Linked DNA regions of Homo sapiens: region 1 is linked to region 2. The links come from fine-mapping of genetic effects on gene expression. A gene starts in region 2. The other region holds a variant in brackets. All regions are shown on one strand. Distances are between the middles of the regions.

Region 1 (2,898 bases), 43 kb after region 2:
GGGTACGTAATCCCCAATGTCTTCAAAAATACTGGGAAAATGGAGATCACTAGCTGGCCAAATTCACACATACACCTTCACTCCCCCTGACCATTTCTCCAGATTCTCATGTCAGCACCTCCCCAAAATGCCAGACACAAGAAATGTACAGACCCCCTCCCTCTGATCAGATGCCAGGGGCTAGGATACATACTTCATGTCAGCCTCAGGAGGTTTCTTCTCTTCCAGCTTCCCTGAAATTTAAAGAGAGGAGTCAGGAACATACTCCTCAGTTAATTTCCACTGAACTTCACCATCCTCTCCAGCTCTTAATGCCCTTTTAAACATCTTCTGTTTAAAACGTGGGTCAAGGCTGGGTGCGGTGGCTCACGCCTGTAATCCCAGCACTTCGGGAGGCCAAGGCGGGCGGATCACTTGAGGTCAGGAGTTTGAGACCAGCCTGGCTAACATGGTGAAACCCCATCTCTACTAAAAGTACAAAAAAATTAGCCGGGTGTGATGGCAGGTGCCTGTAATCCCAGCTACTCAGGAGGCTGAGGCAAGAGAATTGCTTAAACCCAGGAGGCAGAGGTTGCAGTGAGCCGAGATGGCATCACTGCACTCCAGCCTGGGCGACAAAACGAGACTCGTCTCAAAATAAATAAATAAATAAAAATAATAAAATAAGGCCAGGAAGAGTGGCTCATGCCTGTAATCCCAGCACTTTGGGAGGCCGAGGTGGGCACATCATAAGGTCAGGAGTTCGAGGCCAGCCAGGCCAATACAGTGAAACCCCATCTCTACTGAAAATACAAAAATTAGCCAGGCGTGGTGATGCGTGCCTATAGTGCCTATAGTGCCTACTTGGGAGGCTGAGGCAGAAGAATCGCTTGACCCCGGGAGGCAGAGGTTGCAGTGAGCAGACATCGCACCACTGTACTCCAGCCTGGGTGACAGAGCGAGACTCCGTCTCAAAAAATAAATAAATAAAATAAAATAAAATGTCGGTCAAGTATTAGAGCCTTTTTAGAATCTGTCTAGGTTTTCTGGTTTTCACCAAAAAATCTCTTTTAAAAAAAATAAATAAATAGGACATAAGCTACCCACTCTCCATC[C/A]CTCATGCTTCAGACCTGACCACTGCTTCTTAGGTAGGTTAAGGAGACAGAATCTGGCTGTAACTGTCTCCTTGCCAATGCTCCAGTACTCCCATTTTTCTCTGCTTCCCAGGAGCCTCTCAATATTCTGGAGACAGAAAGCTCCAGGAGACCTTGGTTTTATCCCCAAACGTCCTCTGTGGGTAAGGCTTCTCTCTCTAACCCTCCAGGTACCTTTATCCTTCTTCTTAAGCTTCTTGTTACGGGTTCCCTGCCTCAGGTATGAAAGGATCTGGGTCAGCTTGCTAATGACAATGTCATTTGTGGTCAGTGTGGTCTGGGCCTGAAAATACCAAGAAACAAGAATGTTAAACCACTCAGCAGAAATCTCTTCATTTATTCATTCATTCACTTAACAAACTAAAGACTGAATTACAATACAGTAGGTGAAGGGAGGGAAACGAAGTGCTGTGAAAGGATATTCCAGAGATAAAACAGCCTGCACAAAAGCCCTGCATCAAAATGAATCAAGACCATTCAAGAAAGTCAGGAGTCTAGAACATTCTAGAAAGGCCAGATGTTGCAGAGGCTCAAAGTCATGGTAAAGATTTTGCTCTTTATCCTAAGAATGAGATACTACTAAAAGCTTCTAAACTGTAGTGAGACAAAAATTTACATTTTATTTATTTATTTGGAGACAGAGTCTCATTCTGTCGCCCAGGCTAGAATGCAGTGGCACGATCTTGGCTCACTGCAACCTCCACCTTCTGGGTTCAAGCAATTCTCATGCCTCAGCCTTCCGAGTAACTGGGATTACGGGCACATGCCGCCACGCCTGGCTAATTTTTAGTAGAGATCAGGTTTTACAATGTTGGCCCACCTGGTATTGAACTCCTAACCTCAAGTGATCCTCACACCTCAGCCTCCCAAAGTGCTGGGATTACAGGTGTGAGCCACTGCACCCAGCCAAACTGTATATTTTAGAAGGGTAGGGGAGGTAGGGGTGGTTAATAGGTACCAAAAAAATAGAAAGAATGAATAAGGCCTACTACATGATAGCACAACAGGGTGACTATAGGCAGTAATAATTTATACATTCTAAAACAACTAAAAGAGTATAAATGGATTGTTTGTAACACAAAAGATAAATGTTTAACGGGATGGATACCCCATTTTCCATGATGTGATTATTATGCATTATATGCCTGTATCAAAACATCTCATGTACCTCATAAATATATATACCTACTATATATCCACAAAAATTTTTAAAAAAATTCTCTTTAAAGGATGAATTATATGGCATGTGAATAACACCTCAATAACAAGATATAATAACAAATCAGAGTGGAAGTGCGGAAACCAGAGTGGAAGTGCGGAAACCAATTAGAAGCCTTTTTAATAGCTCCAGAGGACTGGCGCAGTGGCTCATGCCTGTAATCCCAGTACTTTGGGAGGCCAAGGCGGATGGATCACTTGAGGTCAGGAATAGCCTAGCCAACGTGGTAAAACCCAATCTCTACTAAAAATAAAAAAATTAACCAGGTGTGGTGATGAATGCCTGTAGTCCCAGCTACTTGGAAGGCTGCGGCAGGAGAATCGTTTGAACCTGGGAGGCGGAGTTTGCAGTGAGCCAAGATAGCACCACTGCACTCCATCCTGGGTGACAGAGTGAGACTTGGTCTCTAAAAAAATAGTAAGTTAATAGTTCCAGCAAATGATTATAGCTTAGACTGGAATGTTATTGGTGAAAAAGTGGAAAAGTGAATGGATTCAGTTGAGATTTAGGAGGTAAAAGTGAACAGCACTTGGTGACATGGTGGAC
Region 2 (2,917 bases):
AAATTCAGGTCTTACTCATTTCAAAATCATTCCTGAAAGGACACAACAGACACTTAAAGTAGCAGCTGGGGAGAATCTCAACACAGGAAGAAATCATAAGCAATCCTCAACTCTACAGCTTTTCTCCACTTTAAAGCCAGCAAATCTAAAAACAGTATGTTTTATATTCATTGATTAACTGAATTGTGGGGGAGAATTTCTGAAGAATTACTAGAAGCAACTTTTTCAAAACGGGAGCAAGGACATTCAAGAATGCTTTCAGGCAGATACCCTAGGCATAACGGAAAGGAACCTTCTGAGAGCTGGGCAAATTTATAAAAGGGGACCAACATCTAGGAAATGCCTGTTACATGTCAAGCACTATTTATTTTACATGTTACATAAAAAATGAAAGAGTTAGTGAGTGCAAGGTGGCCTGGAGGTAAAGGGAAAGAAGAATGTACACGTTTGAAACAGATGACAAAATAAAACATTTCTTTATGCAATCTCTTAAACAGGAGAGAAGCACCAACTCCCTGATGTACAAGGCACAGAGAAACAGCACTACTAAGCTCTAGCTGAAACAATCACAGATCCTGCAAAGTTCCCCGGCTTTTCTCAGACTATATGGGAGGGTCTTGATTGGGCCAGGAATGTTCTCTCCCTTAAGAAATTTCAAGGGAAAGAGGGGGGTCACTGATAGCGGTAATGCACAGCAGCAAAATACTCTACTTAACTTCTCTGTCACTACTAAGGATGCCGTTATCTTCTCTGTACTTCAGGAAAGCATTAAACGAGCCAAGCAAAGGGTGGGCAAGGAAGCAGAGTGAAATAGAGCTGAAGAGCATCTCAAAACTACTTACTTCATCCCACCTCCTCGCTCTCATTTTGTAAATGCAGAAACCTAGGCCCAGGGAAGCAGCACTCTGCCAGAGCTTACACCGCGTGGGAAGGCAGCGCACTTCAACTCCCACCCGCTCTCCATCATCGCATCGCCTCTGTGATACCCTTAGCCCTTGATGTAGTTAGCACCCACCATCTTTCTTTTCTCTCTCTTCCGTGAGCCTCTTCTCGGCGAGTTTCTCATATTCATCTTTGTCCCACTTTCGGCGAAAGTCCAAGTTTTTTGTCTGTGGGGAGGAAAAAGCGTCAAGATCCGTCGCCGTGTCTGGGCCCCTAGAGAAGCAGGGAACCGCGCCCTCGCGGTCCAGGTGTCTACAGGACGTTTTGAAAGCAAAGCCTCTTTGGACTGTACGAGAAGACTGAGGTAGCCTCAAGACCCCAACCCGAGAAACCTCCGCGATTCTACTGACCCTCTGCCAAGGCCTATTACTGGGGAGTTCTTGAACCTGAACCCTGGGATCTCGAGGAGATATCGGGAAGCCAGTCGGGTGCAGGAGTTTGTCTCTATTCAGGTCTGAAAAACCATTCCCCACCCCGCAAAACCTCCTCCTCAGACACAACACCTACCCCGCTGCCCGACGCCATCTTCACAGCGAAGTGAATGGCGAGCTGAAAAACGCCGTAAAAAGCGGCTTGGAGCCGTAAGGCAAGATAGCCCTCCAATAAGCTTGGAGTCTTGTGTTCTAAACGAGCTAAGGACTGGAGGGTTTCTAAAACAGGCTTGTTGGCCCCGCCTCTGCTCCAAGGAGACAGCGCAGGCGCAAGAGGAGTATGAAGCAACACGGAAGTAAGGGCGCTTGCAATTGTTTTTTGCCTTGGATTTCAAAACAAGCATTAAAGGGTCAAGATTTAGTTCAACTATTTTACAAACAAGGAAACTGAGGTTCGCAAAACAGTGGTCTCTGATCTAGTCTAGCAACTTTGCGTCCACTGCCAAGAATTTCTAAACCTTTTTTAAGGCCGAAGCGCCATTAGGGGGTCTAGATGCCTCTCATTCACCTGCATGCACTAGGGATATGACCCTAAACTACACTGAAACGTTTGCAACAGAGGCACCCTTCCCGACGCACATATAAAAAGCATGTTTTGCACTTGGGCTCTTTTCCTTGAAGCAATGCTACCACCCTTTGGTTCACTTATTTTTCCATCATCTGGGGAACTTTATAGTAGAACATAATTTAATCAGCATAATTGGATTTGGAAAGGCCAGTCATCAACAACACTCTAGAGTGAAGCACTGTGGCATACCGGCTCACTATATGTTGATTTTTAGCAACAAAACTACCTCTTGGCCGGGCACAGTGGCTCATGCCTGTAATCCCAGCACTTTGGGAGGCTGAGGTGGGTGGATTATGAGGTCAGGAGTTTGAGACCAGCCTGGCCAAGATGGTGAAACCCTGTCTCTACTAAAAATACAAAAATTAGCTGGCTACTCGGGAGGCTGAAGCAGGAGAATCTCTTGAACCTGAGAGGCGGAGGTTGCAGTGAGCCGAGATCACGCCACTGCACTCTAGCCTGGGTGACAGAGCAAGACTCCGTCTAAAAACAAACAAACAAAAAAACTACCTCTTGAGGAGACAGGGAAAGAGGGAGAAACTGTGGCTGCTCATCACTGAATACAGAAGCATCATCCCAGGGAGGTTACTTCTACCTCACAGAATTCTCCAATGTACACTCAAGCATTTTCTATGGTCTATGCAAACAAAGCCCTTGATAACAATAACAAATTACCCAAACTACTACACTTAATATTTTATTTAACATGTTATCCAACCACTTCTAAAACAGCCTCCATGGCACGGTATGGAATAGAGCAGTGATTCTGGCACAGGAAATGGTCTCCAAAATCTCAAAATATCAGATCTCTACCTTGTCAAGTCATCTATTAAGTTCAATGTTCAAGATTATCAAGCATACAGCCCCACTCTTCTACTGTAAGCAATGGATGGGCTAGAGAGATGTCAAATCAACATGGGTACTGCCATGCCCTTAGGATAGCATCTGTCCTCAAAGCTGAAAGCAGCCATTGCCCCTC

What was found.
Region 1: its variant is fine-mapped to the expression of ZMAT2 in whole blood (INTERVAL, PIP 0.99).

The regions. Positions count from the first base shown.
Region 1 is chr5:140,656,072-140,658,969 of GRCh38, reverse strand. It overlaps IK (IK cytokine), which reads right to left. Exons shown (of 20, transcript NM_006083.4): 10 at 1,308-1,416; 11 at 194-233; 12 at 1-31. Among named protein-coding and RNA genes, the nearest start is that of WDR55, 7.4 kb to the left of the region's middle. The variant C/A (reference allele first, on the strand shown) is at 1,095.
Region 2 is chr5:140,699,011-140,701,927 of GRCh38, reverse strand. ZMAT2 (zinc finger matrin-type 2) reads right to left here and starts at 1,481. Exons shown (of 6, transcript NM_144723.3): 1 at 1,450-1,481; 2 at 1,016-1,109. The coding sequence starts at 1,467. HARS2 (histidyl-tRNA synthetase 2, mitochondrial) reads right to left here. Exons shown (of 13, transcript NM_012208.4): 13 at 2,623-2,917. RefSeq lists an enhancer at 1,153-1,222.